4 separate regions of the Homo sapiens genome follow, and regions 1, 3 and 4 are each reported to be linked to region 2. Evidence: microRNA targets listed by miRTarBase, many of them from high-throughput screens and not tested one by one. Region 2 holds a microRNA gene; each other region holds the end of a gene's coding sequence.

What was found. The annotated mature microRNA hsa-miR-1277-5p reads AAAUAUAUAUAUAUAUGUACGUAU and lies in region 2 at 2,098-2,121, shown strand. An mRNA with a match to its seed (bases 2 to 7 or 8) in the 3' UTR can be bound and repressed. Matches are read on the target gene's strand: a 7mer-m8 pairs with bases 2 to 8, a 7mer-A1 pairs with bases 2 to 7 and ends in A, and an 8mer does both.
Region 1: the mRNA of SPPL2A is a reported target of hsa-miR-1277-5p. Seed matches in the 3' UTR shown: 7mer-m8 at 546-552 and 7mer-A1 at 1,313-1,319.
Region 3: the mRNA of FAM120AOS is a reported target of hsa-miR-1277-5p. Seed matches in the 3' UTR shown: 7mer-m8 at 1,240-1,246.
Region 4: the mRNA of MYADM is a reported target of hsa-miR-1277-5p. Seed matches in the 3' UTR shown: 7mer-m8 at 1,250-1,256 and 7mer-m8 at 2,210-2,216.

The regions. Positions count from the first base shown.
Region 1 is chr15:50,705,061-50,708,230 of GRCh38, reverse strand. SPPL2A (signal peptide peptidase like 2A) reads left to right here. Exons shown (of 15, transcript NM_032802.4): 15 at 357-3,170. The coding sequence ends at 431. Among named protein-coding and RNA genes, the nearest start is that of TRPM7, 20 kb to the right of the region's middle.
Region 2 is chrX:118,384,304-118,387,473 of GRCh38, forward strand. It overlaps MIR1277 (microRNA 1277), which reads left to right and starts at 2,091; the gene lies at 2,091-2,168. WDR44 (WD repeat domain 44) reads left to right here. Exons shown (of 20, transcript NM_019045.5): 3 at 3,037-3,111.
Region 3 is chr9:93,444,673-93,447,842 of GRCh38, reverse strand. It overlaps FAM120AOS (family with sequence similarity 120 member A opposite strand), which reads left to right. Exons shown (of 3, transcript NM_198841.4): 3 at 146-3,170. The coding sequence ends at 232. Among named protein-coding and RNA genes, the nearest start is that of FAM120A, 5.4 kb to the left of the region's middle.
Region 4 is chr19:53,874,085-53,877,254 of GRCh38, forward strand. It overlaps MYADM (myeloid associated differentiation marker), which reads left to right. Exons shown (of 3, transcript NM_138373.5): 3 at 1-2,351. The coding sequence ends at 414. Among named protein-coding and RNA genes, the nearest start is that of PRKCG, 6.5 kb to the right of the region's middle.

The sequences.
Region 1 (3,170 bases), not on the chromosome of region 2:
TGATTGGACACTGCCTGGAATAGTGTCCTGGAATAAGTGTCAGGAATATCTTCCTTTTGTTCTGGAGTTCTCACTGCCATGAAGGGCAGTATTCATATTGGGAAATGGAGATAACGGAAGATCCAGAGAACACAAATTGGCTTTGAGTCATGTGATTAGGCTTCCTGAGAGGTTCAGTGTCACCCTGACTATCTCCTTAGAAGTGTGGATGTTGAACCAGAACAGTGCTCCAGAAGGAGTGCTCAGTTTCATAGAGCAATCTGTGTTTTTTAGAAAAAGAATCCTTTTGCTAATGTAGTGAATATTGGGGGCAAGTTGAAATTTTGCATTTCCTAACGTCTTTTATTTATGCCTAGATGATGGACCATTTGGATTGTGCAACAAATGAAGAAAACCCTGTGATATCTGGTGAACAGATTGTCCAGCAATAATATTATGTGGAACTGCTATAATGTGTCATTGATTTTCTACAAATAGACTTCGACTTTTTAAATTGACTTTTGAATTGACAATCTGAAAGAGTCTTCAATGATATGCTTGCAAAAATATATTTTTATGAGCTGGTACTGACAGTTACATCATAAATAACTAAAACGCTTTGCTTTTAATGTTAAAGTTGTGCCTTCACATTAAATAAAACATATGGTCTGTGTAGTTTCCGAGATGTACTATATACAGTATATTTTTCTAAAAAAAAATGCCTTGACCCACCCCTATACTTTTTTTTAACGAAATCTGTTTCTTTCAGCTCTGATGGTAGATACAAGTAGTTACTATTTCTGAATGGGTTTTACTGTAAAGAATTATGCAAATTGGCCAGGCGCGGTGGCTCACGCCTGTAATCCCAACACTTTGGGAGGCCAAGGCGGGCGGATCACGAGGTCAGGAGATCGAGACCATCCTGGCTAACACGGTGAAACCCCTCTCTACTAAAAATACCAAAAATTAGCTGGGCGTGGTGGAGGGTGCCTGTAGTCCCAGCTACTGGGAAGGCTGAGACAGGAGAATGGCGTGAACCCGGGAAGTGGAGCTTGCAGTGAGCCAAGATCACGCCACTGCACTCCAGCCTGGGCGACAGAGTGAGACTCCATCCCAAAAAAAAAGATTTATGCAAATTATATCTGCTCTGTAGAAATAACTGTTTAACACCATGCAAGAAGGCGGTTCAACGGTGAAAATTTGGACCTTATATCACTGCAGAGGTTAGAAATACATAATTTTGGAAATATAAGTGCATATTTTTGTAGTATTTTTTTAAACCCAATCCTTTCATAAACTTGAGAACTGAAATTACTTCAGACTGCACGTGTATTATATTAAGAACATTTTTCCAGATATAGAGAAACATAATATATAGAACTAGTCACTAAAAGGAGACAGACACTGAAATCTAGTTTTCATTGGTTTGACAGCCTTTTTTTTTTAAATGTAGCTTAAATTTCAGTACTAACATTCAGTTTCACTTTGGTATTTCTGATCTTTGCAATTTGGTTCTGTTAATGTTAAGGTTTGATTTTTTAAAAAAATTATTTTTCTTAAGAAATTATGTATTAATACATATGGCTCATCGTTGAATACAGCATTCCTAACATTATCCCACATTCCCCCACTCCCACCCGTTATCTTTTTTTCTTCCTGATGCCCACCCCTTTTCCCATAGGTAATGATTCTTAATCTTGGTGGAGGATGTACAAAGTGCGGTTCAGAGAAAAGAATTGGCAACAACAGCAAGAGACTTGGTGTTAGTCTCAGTTTAATTACAATACAAGGAAGAGTTGAGTAATTTGCCGCATCTCAAGACCTTGTATCTCAGTTTTCTTTTTTTTTTTTTTTTTTTTTTTGAGACGGAGTCTCGCTCTGTCGCCCAGGCTGGAGTGCAGTGGCGGGATCTCGGCTCACTGCAAGCTCCGCCTCCCGGGTTCACGCCATTCTCCTGCCTCAGCCTCCCAAGTAGCTAGGACTACAGGCGCCCGCCACTACGCCCGGCTATTTTTTGTAGTTTTAGTAGAGACGGGGTTTCACCGTTTTAGCCGGGATGGTCTCGATCTCCTGACCTCGTGATCCGCCCGCCTCGGCCTCCCAAAGTGCTGGGATTACAGGCGTGAGCCACCGCGCCCGGCCATATCTCAGTTTTCTAATCTGTAAAATGAGTAGGTTAGACCAGCTAATCACTCTGGTACCTTCCAACTTGAAAAAAGTTTTTTCCCCATTCTTTGGTAAATTTTAGATGTGGCCTGAACATTCTCCTGGAAGTCAGAGGTCAAATTATCTTTCCATTTTCTTTTATTTTAGTAAGAATTTCGCAAATGACAAGTGATAACAAAGGCAGCAGGATTTTTCATTTCTCTGTAAATAATGTATAAAATATGTGAACAGAACTATATCTTTCATCTAAGGCCAGTTCAATTTATTAAAAATAAAACTAATGCCTTTTAAAATTGATCAGACCTTTGATACTTGAACTAAATTTTGCATTAGAGACTTTTTAAAAATTGTTCGCTTTTGCTGAATAAATTGCAAATAGAGAAGCTTCATTGACAGTCAGTCCCTCTCTGCTTAATGCAGTTATGGGTCCTTTCGTTTATGGCAAATGACTTACCTGACAAGAGTTAATTTTGCCTCCATTGTATCAAGTTTGAATATTTTCCAAGAAATCTGATTTATTTGGCAGACTCTGAGAGAGAGAACAGATTAAGTGCCGTTTTAAAACTCTGTATTTTCATTTATAATAATAAAATATTTGCCAAAATACAGCTGTTTTGTAAAATTATCTGCACCCTCATCCAAGCTTTATATTTAATAGCCTTAATCACATTTTATGAAGAATGTTAAAGAAAATTTTTTTTTTACTACATCGAAATGAGATAATTAATTTCTTTTTTTTTTTTTTGGAAATGGAGTCTCCCTCTGTCACCCAGGCTGGAGTGCAGTAGCAAGATCTTGGCTCACTACAACCTCTGCCTCCTGGTTCAAGCAATTTTCCTGCCTCAGCCTCCCAAGTAGACGGGATTACAGGTGCGTGCCACCACACCTGGCTAATTTTTGTATTTTTAGTAGAGACGGGGTTTCACCTTGTTGGTCAGGCTGGTCTTGAGCTCCTGACCTCATGATCTGCCCGCCTCAGACTCCCCAAGTGCTGGGATTGCAGGCATGAGCCACCGCGCCTGGCA
Region 2 (3,170 bases):
TCATGGAGCTTACATTCTAGTGGGACAGGGAAGAGACAAAAAATAAGCAAGTAAATAAGGTCATTTCGAACGATAAGTGCAATGAAGGAAAATAGGATAATGTTTTCCCAGCACCATTTATTGAGTAGGGAAGCCTTTCCCCATTCTTTGTTTTCATCAGGTTTGTCGAAGATCAGATAGTTGTAGGTGTGCGGTCTTATTTCTGTATTCTCTATTCTGTTCTATTGGTCTGTGTGTCTCTTTTTGTACCAGTACCATGCTGTTTGGTAACTGTAGCACTGTAGCATAGTTTGAAGTCGGGTAGCATGATGCCTCCAGCTTTGTTCTTTTTGCTTAGGATTTGCCTTGGCTATTCAGGCTCTTTTTTGGTTCCCTATGAATTTTAAAATAAAATTTCCTAGTTCTGTGAAGAATCTCAGTGGTAGTTTAATAGTAATGGCATTAAGTCTATACATTGCCTTGGGCAGTGTGGCCATTTTAACGATATTGATTCTTCCTATCCATGAGCTTGGAATGTTTTTCCATTTGTTTGTGTCATCTCTGGTTTCTTTGAGCAGTGGTTTGTAGTTCTCCTTTCACCTCCCTAGTTAGCTGTATTCATAGGTATTTTCTTTTCGTGGCAATTGCAAATGATGGGAGTTTATTCCTGATTTGGCTCTCTGCTTGGCTGTTATTAGTGTATAATAATGCTAGTGATTTTTGCACATTTATTTTGTATCCTGAGACTTTGTTGAAGTTGTTTATCAGCTTAAGAATCTTTTGGGCTGAGACTATGGGTTATCTAGATATAAGATCATGTTGTCTGCAAACAGGGATAGTTTGACATCCTCTCCTCAATCCCATTACTGGGTATATACCCAAAGGAATATAAATCATTCTATTATAAAGACACATGCACACACATGTTCATTGCAGCACTATTCACAATAGCAAAGACATGAAATCAACCTAAATGCCCATCAATGATAGACTGGATAAAGAAAATGTAGTACATATACACCATGGAATACTATGCAGCCATAAAAAAGAACGAGATCATGTCCTTTGCAGGGCCATGGATGGAGCTGGAGGCCATTATCCTTAGCAAATCAATGCAGGAACAGAAAACCAAATACTGCATGTTCTCACTTATAGGTGGGAGCTAAATGATGTGGACACATGAACCCATAGAGGGGAACAACACATGTTGAGGCCTATCAGAGGGTGAAGGGTGGGAGGAGGGAGAGGATCAGGAAAAATGACTAATGTGTACTAGGCTTAATACCTGGGTGATGAAATAATCTGTGCAACAAAACCCCATGACACAAGTTTACCTGTGTAACAAATCTGCACATGTACCCCTGAACTTAAAGTTAAAAAAAAAAAGAAAAATAGGATAATGTGATAGAAAGTTAAGGAGTCAGCTAAGGCTATTTTGAGATGGTCAGGGAAGTATTTTCTGATAAAATAGCACTTGAGCTATGACCCTAATGGCAAGGAATCATCCTATTGGCCAGAATGTAATTGTGGGGGAGTGATATGAGAGGGAGATGAGGAGTGTAGAAGATATCAAAAATGTAGGCAGAGGCTATGTCATGTTTAGGCCTTCATGGGCCTTGGTACTGTTTGGATTTTATCTAATACTTAAGAGTCCATGAAACATTTTTTTTTTTCTAGAAGAATCTGTGTAAGATTGGTAGTATTCTCCAAATTCTGGGGGAGGAATTCAGTGCTCGAAGATATTGCAAGTCCTACAGAAATTTCACTGGCACGTTAAATCTTTAACATTTTAATAATCTCTGGAGTAATTTCATTATTGAGCCTATTGTGATCATATCCTGATACTTGTATAAGTGCCACCTAAATAATTAATGTGCCTTGAGTCCTTTATCTGTCTAAAATGGTTATAATGACCTTCCTCTAACAAACTCTGTGATGTGCACAAAGAATTATGGTTTTTTTTCCTCAGTATCAAGAGTAGCATTCAAATTGCTGTGCTTCTATAAATAGACAACTTAAGATTGAGAAGAGTATTGTATTGAGATTTGCAAATATATGATTGTCTTATTTTACCCTAATTTTTTCCAGCAGAAATGCAGTATCCATTTCTAACCTCCCAAATATATATATATATGTACGTATGTGTATATAAATGTATACGTAGATATATATGTATTTTTGGTGGGTTTAATTTTTTTCATCTTTTTTCATAGTTTTTTTAGGGGCTTCATTTAACTTCTGGTTAAGTCTTGATTTCTTTTATCTAAAGCATGTAGAATTTTAAGAAAACTATTCCCTGAATGTGGTTTTCTGTGTTATAAACTTTTGTATTTGTGCATATTTATGGAGCAATGCTTTGGGGAAAATAACAATTTTTATTCAGCCCCTTGCTTAAATCCTTAATCCTTTTTAGCTATAAAAGTACGTAGAAGTTCTTATCGTCCATTACAGTTTTTTAATGTTAAAAAGTTGAGCAAGTTTTCACATTTAAAGGTAAATATCCTATTGCAGAATAATAGAATATTGCTGATGGGTAACTTTCTTATGCAAATTACATTGTCCCATTTGGCATAAAATTTCTGAGCATCTATCAGTATTCAGAAATCTAAGCCCTTTAGGCTGGGCACAGTGGCTCACACCTATAATCCCAGCACTTTGGGAGGCTGAGGTGGGTAGATCACTTGAGGTCAGGAGTTCAAGACCAGCCTGGCCAACAAGGTGAAACTCTGTCTGTACTAAAATTACAAAAATTAGCCAGGTGTGGTGGCACGCGCCTATAATCCCAGCTACTCGGGAGGCTGAGGCAGGAGAATCACTTGAACCCGGGAAGCAGAGGTTGCAGTGAGCCAGGATTGTGCCACTGCACTCCAGCCTGGGTGACAGAGTAAAACTCTGTCTCAAAAAAAAAAAAAAAAAAAAAAGAAGAAGAAGAAATCAAAGCCCTTTAAGGGCCTTTGATTTATTAATGCTACATTTTCTCATTTGTACCCCTTTAAAGCATATTTTTAAAGAAAAGATGTCATCATTTGGTCTCTATTTCTTTTCTTTTTCAAACAGGAAACAGAGAACACTGCATACAAAGTTGGAAATGAGTCCCCTGTACAAGAATTGAAACAAGATGTGTCTAAAAAGGTTGGAAAGATACAATGTCAATATTAGTTTATAGCAGACATCATATTTATATGGTATAT
Region 3 (3,170 bases), not on the chromosome of region 2:
TATCTCTCCAGTACTATGAGTTATCAGCAGTAGCAGAGGGTAGGAGAGCTCCACAGAGATCAATATTCGGACTCTGGAGACCATGACAAAATACATTTCATATTCCAAACTAATATATAAACTACCTTTTTTTTTTTCTTTTCAGATTTCCAGAAGCTGTTCTGTCAATAACAAAGTCTCAAAGAAAACCACAAAACCACCAACACTAAGATCATTCTTGAGTCCAATTTGAAAAACTAGGGTCAAGTTCTGCAGAGGCATTGAAAGGACAAGAAACCACCCTGATACCCATCGTGTGAGGGAAAATGCTCTATTCACCATTCCTCAGCTTCTGCTTCTGGTTTCAGAGTTCTCTCTATATTGGAGGGTGTTTTAAAGCTAGAGTGGTCTTTATCCACTTTTATTAACACATCTGAATGTGAAGGTCAAGAGAGGAAAGTGATATGTCCTAAGTCAGAGTAGAGTCAACAAGAAAATAAGACAAACAGCGACTGAGCCCCTGGTGTATACTGGGCATTGGCCAGCTACTGGGGATATGGAGATGAAGAAAACATAACCCTTCTTCAAGGAGCCCAACCTACCAAGGTAGACAGACATATAGACAAATAGATACTTGCATAGAAAAAAAGAGGAAAAGGGGATCAGTGTGACCTGTGTAACTAAGTACCCTATAAACCCTCCTGCAACAGATCATATTGCCCTTTATAGTGGGGATGGTAATCCCATCTGAATTCCACAGGTACTTTGCAGTCATACCACACCCATGTGTCTGTCGGTCCTGACTGTACCATTTATAAACAGCTTCACTTTCAGCAGTTCTCAGCCCTCTTAAGCTAGGGTCATTGTCAGTAGGGATACTGCTTCATAAGCACCAGCAGAACACCAAAGGAGACCATATGGGTGAAAGCAACCAGCACTGCCCTGGCGCTTCATAGGTTCTTAGAGTTTTTATCTTTTACTTTCAGTCTAACACAGCACTGCCTGCTTTTTGTTTTTGTTGCTTGGTTTGTTTTTTTCTTACCGTGTTCACCAAACTTGTGTCCAAATAGCTTTGGGCTGATGCAAAAATATCTATGTGGAAGAGAAGAGTTGTTCTCATGGAGGGCCTTCAGATGAGTGCTATAGACTCTCTAGGCAACTCCAAGAGGCTTCTCAAGCAGGGTGGGCAGTGAGAGCTGCTATGGAATCAATGGACAAACTGACAGGGACTGCTTTGAAAGACAGTACTCAGTTGAGTATATATATTCTCTCTTAAGGGCTAAAAGTTTATAATCATCCCTTAAACACTCTGTGATGGGATCTTCAGGATCATCTTTTGAAGTAAACTATATTTTACAATGTGATATAAATCAAGTGAGTTTTTTTTTTAATTAGGAATTCCCGTAAGTATAAAGCCATTTTAAGATGTACATTTTAGAGACTAGCTATTGTTAAGTGGTCTGTTACATTTGTGTAAACCATAAAGATCTTTCCAGAGGAAGCAAGTCTCTCATACCAGAATATGAAAACACTAGCCCCAGGCTTGAGTAACCTAGATCACATGAAGCTGACTTCCTCTGAGGAGTCTAGGACCTCAGATATAGGTGGGAGCACACAATCACCCTTCTGGAAACAGCTAAGACTTGTGGCTCAGGCGTTTGACCTTGCTGACAAAGGAAGAGGTCAGGGTTGACGAGAGCTCCAGGAAGAATGAAAGTGCCTCTGGAAGGCAGGAAGAAAGTTACTGTAATACTTTATCCTTAGGGTGGAACAAGAGTCTGGGAAAGCTCTGCCCTATAAAGTCCCCTTCCCCATTCCTCCCAGGTCCCAGGTGTGGTGGTATAAGGAGAGTTGGCCCAATCTGGGAGCTGAGGGATCTGAGACATCCATCTACTGCATCAGTGCACTCAGAAGTGAGGATTTTGGCACAGTTATTCATGAGACATCAGCCCATCATATAAAACATGCCTCCAGTTTGGTTAAACTAGGAAGCACTATATAATATTTTAAAATCAGTTACATGTCACTGATAAAAGACTTAGTATTACCATGATGTTATTTTTCTTGAGGCAACATGATGAAACCCATTGTCTACAAAAAATCCAAAAATTAGCCAGGTGAGGTGTGCACCTGTAGTCCCATCTTCTCAGGAGGCTGAGGTGGGAAGACTACTTGAGCCAAGGTGGTGGAGGTTGGAGTGAGCCCAGATTACACCACTTGCACTCCAGCCTGGGCAACAGAGTGAGGCCTTGTCTCAAAAAAAAAAAAAAAAAAAAAAAACAACGATTTTTATGAAAGTTGGAGAACCAGGATTAAGACTGGGTGGGAACTAAGAATGACAGGTACTTTTAACAATACAGCTGGGATGCTGTTGATGACATGAATGAACCCCACTCTTACTGTAGTCATTTGCTCAAGATTCAAAGTCATGAAAAAGAGTAGAATGGACCAAACTTAGGTACTAAGAGTCCCCAGCCTGGCAGTGAAAACAGTATAGTTCCTTTGACTTTAATATGGGGAAACAGGTTCCTGGATTGACGATCTCACCAAAACTATACACAATTTTTTTTTATTTTTTCTCAGACCTTTCAGGGATGAATATATACAATTTCTGAGAAAGAAACCTGAGTACCTTTAGGAAGGGAAAAGGAATGCTGAATATCCCCAAATAACATGTCTTACATGTTTGGTAAGACTTACTGTACCCTGTCCTAGAAGATAGAAGATGCCCTGCCCTTAGAAGACAAAGAGACTGTAGAGCTATGCCTTCTAAATCTTAAGCCACTCTTCAGATAATGGATCCCTTCATGGTCAGCCCAAACATCTCAAGAACTTTTAATTTGTACCGTTTGTCTTTTTTTCCATTTATTTAATACCACAAATTCACTTTATTATTATGAAGCCAATATCTACATCTTCTCACAAAGATTCTCTTAAGAAATGCAGAACTGGCCGGGTGCAGTGGCTCATTCCTGTAATCCCAGCACTTTGGGAGGCCGAGGCGGGTGGATCACCTGAGGTCGGGAGTTCAAGACCAGCCTGACAAACATGGAGAAACCCTGTCTCTACTAAAAATACAAAATCAGCTAGGCGTGGTGGCACATGCCTGTAATCCCAGCTACTAGGGAGGCTGAGGCAGAAGAATCCCTTGAACCTGGGAGGCGGAGGTTGCGGTGAGCCGAGATCGCACC
Region 4 (3,170 bases), not on the chromosome of region 2:
ATCATCTTCGCGTTCATCAGCGACCCCAACCTGTACCAGCACCAGCCGGCCCTGGAGTGGTGCGTGGCGGTGTACGCCATCTGCTTCATCCTAGCGGCCATCGCCATCCTGCTGAACCTGGGGGAGTGCACCAACGTGCTACCCATCCCCTTCCCCAGCTTCCTGTCGGGGCTGGCCTTGCTGTCTGTCCTCCTCTATGCCACCGCCCTTGTTCTCTGGCCCCTCTACCAGTTCGATGAGAAGTATGGCGGCCAGCCTCGGCGCTCGAGAGATGTAAGCTGCAGCCGCAGCCATGCCTACTACGTGTGTGCCTGGGACCGCCGACTGGCTGTGGCCATCCTGACGGCCATCAACCTACTGGCGTATGTGGCTGACCTGGTGCACTCTGCCCACCTGGTTTTTGTCAAGGTCTAAGACTCTCCCAAGAGGCTCCCGTTCCCTCTCCAACCTCTTTGTTCTTCTTGCCCGAGTTTTCTTTATGGAGTACTTCTTTCCTCCGCCTTTCCTCTGTTTTCCTCTTCCTGTCTCCCCTCCCTCCCACCTTTTTCTTTCCTTCCCAATTCCTTGCACTCTAACCAGTTCTTGGATGCATCTTCTTCCTTCCCTTTCCTCTTGCTGTTTCCTTCCTGTGTTGTTTTGTTGCCCACATCCTGTTTTCACCCCTGAGCTGTTTCTCTTTTTCTTTTCTTTTTTTTTTTTTTTTTTTTTTAAGACGGATTCTCACTCTGTGGCCCAGGCTGGAGTGCAGTGGTGCGATCTCGACTCACTGCAACCCCCGCCTCCTGGGTTCAAGCGATTCTCCTGCCCCAGCCTCCCAAGTAGCTGGGAGGACAGGTGTGAGCTGCCGCACCCAGCCTGTTTCTCTTTTTCCACTCTTCTTTTTTCTCATCTCTTTTCTGGGTTGCCTGTCGGCTTTCTTATCTGCCTGTTTTGCAAGCACCTTCTCCTGTGTCCTTGGGAGCCCTGAGACTTCTTTCTCTCCTTGCCTCCACCCACCTCCAAAGGTGCTGAGCTCACATCCACACCCCTTGCAGCCGTCCATGCCACAGCCCCCCAAGGGGCCCCATTGCCAAAGCATGCCTGCCCACCCTCGCTGTGCCTTAGTCAGTGTGTACGTGTGTGTGTGTGTGTGTGTGTGTGTGTGTGTTTGGGGGGTGGGGGGTGGGTAGCTGGGGATTGGGCCCTCTTTCTCCCAGTGGAGGAAGGTGTGCAGTGTACTTCCCCTTTAAATTAAAAAACATATATATATATATATTTGGAGGTCAGTAATTTCCAATGGGCGGGAGGCTTTAAGCACCGACCCTGGGTCCCTAGGCCCCGCCTGGCACTCAGCCTTGCCAGAGATTGGCTCCAGAATTTTTGCCAGGCTTACAGAACACCCACTGCCTAGAGGCCATCTTAAAGGAAGCAGGGGCTGGATGCCTTTCATCCCAACTATTCTCTGTGGTATCAAAAAGAAAAAAAAAAAAAAAGAAGGAGTCGGGGCCGGGCGTGGTGGCTCACGCCTGTAATCCCAGCACTTTGGGAGACCAAGTCAGGCAATCATCTGAAGTCAGGAGTTCAAGACCAGCCTGGCCAACATGGTGAAAGCATGTCTCTATTAAAAATACAAAAATTAGCCGGGCGTGGTGGCGGGCGCCTGTAATCCCAGGTATTTGGGGGGACTGAGACAGGAGAATCCCTTCAACCCGGGAGGTGGAGGTTGCAGTAAGTCAAGATGGCACCACTGTGCTCCAGCCTGGGGGACAGAGCGAGACTCCATCTCAAAAAAAAAAAGGAATCGGACGAAGAACCACAGGATGTTGAAGACAACTGTCTGAAGTATTTGTGAGGGACAGCGATGTGGCCCTCTGTGTTAAGAATAACGTGTCCTGCTTTGGCAGAGAGAAGAAAATAGCCACTGCCCGCTTTCAAGGCAAGATCGACCTTTTCTGTTTTGTTTTGTTTTTCTTTCTTTTTCCTGGCCATGAGGACAAAAATTACTGAGTGGCCCTTAAAGAGGGAAGTTTGTTTTCAGCTGTTCTCTTTTGCCCGTAGGTGGGAGGGTGGGGATTGCTGCGTCCTAGCTAGAGGAATGGCTTTGCTTGAATGTGTAGTGCACACGCACGGGTGTTTCTGTGTGCTAGTTGCTTCTTGCTGCTGCTTCCTGCTTGTCTGGGACTCACATACATAACGTGATATATATATATATATATATAAATGTATAAATATATATTTTATTTTTTTTTAAATCCCTGGAGCTTCTGGTTCCTATCAGTTCCTGTTGTTAATCGTAGAACCGTTGTCCCTTCCCCCATTCCCGTATCCATCATGTTCTTTTTCTTTTAAATATCAATATAAAGGTAAAAGAAGGACTTGTGCTTTCTTAATGAGGAGGGCGGCCGAGCACGGCGGGCGGATCACTTGAGGTCAGGAGTTTGAGACCAGCCTGGCCAACATGGTGAAACCCCGTCTCTACAAAAAAATAAAAAAGAAAAGCGGGGGAGGACTCTCGGAGAGGGGCAAGGGCCAGATTCTTGGGTCTAGTGGGAGAATAGGGTTGGTGCCAAGACAACCTTGGCCTCATCAGAAGATACTAGCTGGATCTAGGTCTTCTAAATGACTTCCTCAAACCAGGAGGGCTGGGTGGGATAGAAATGAACTAGACTTCTCCCTCCTTGGAGTCTGTCCCCTGAGCACCTCACAAATACAACGTCCTAATTTGAGTGAAGGAGCTTTCCTCCCCAGTCACCTCGTCCTCCCAGGTCCCCCCATTTCAGTAATAGCCTCTCAGAGCTGAGAACCCAAGCACATGGTGGTACCTTCCCCCCGTCTACTCAAGTCAGTCCCTCATCAAACACTGTCTATTCTTCCCCCTAAATACCATTTCTACCGCCCTCTTCTCCAGGTTCCTGGTCCAGCTCAAGTTCCATTTTGTTTCACCTGAGCTATTGCCCCAGCCTCCTTCTCCTCCATCCCACCCTGGCTCCAGAGGGATTCTTTCATCATGCAGATCTGATCCTGCCCTTCCCTGCTGAAGTCCTTCCGTAGCCCATTGCCTATAGGCACTATCAAAGCCCCTGGGTCTGGCCTTCATGATCTGATCCCGCCTCCATTCCCACTATCAGCTCCCTCCTTACCCTCCAATCTAAGCCTCTGAATATACCTGGTCAACAGAAGACCTTCATAAA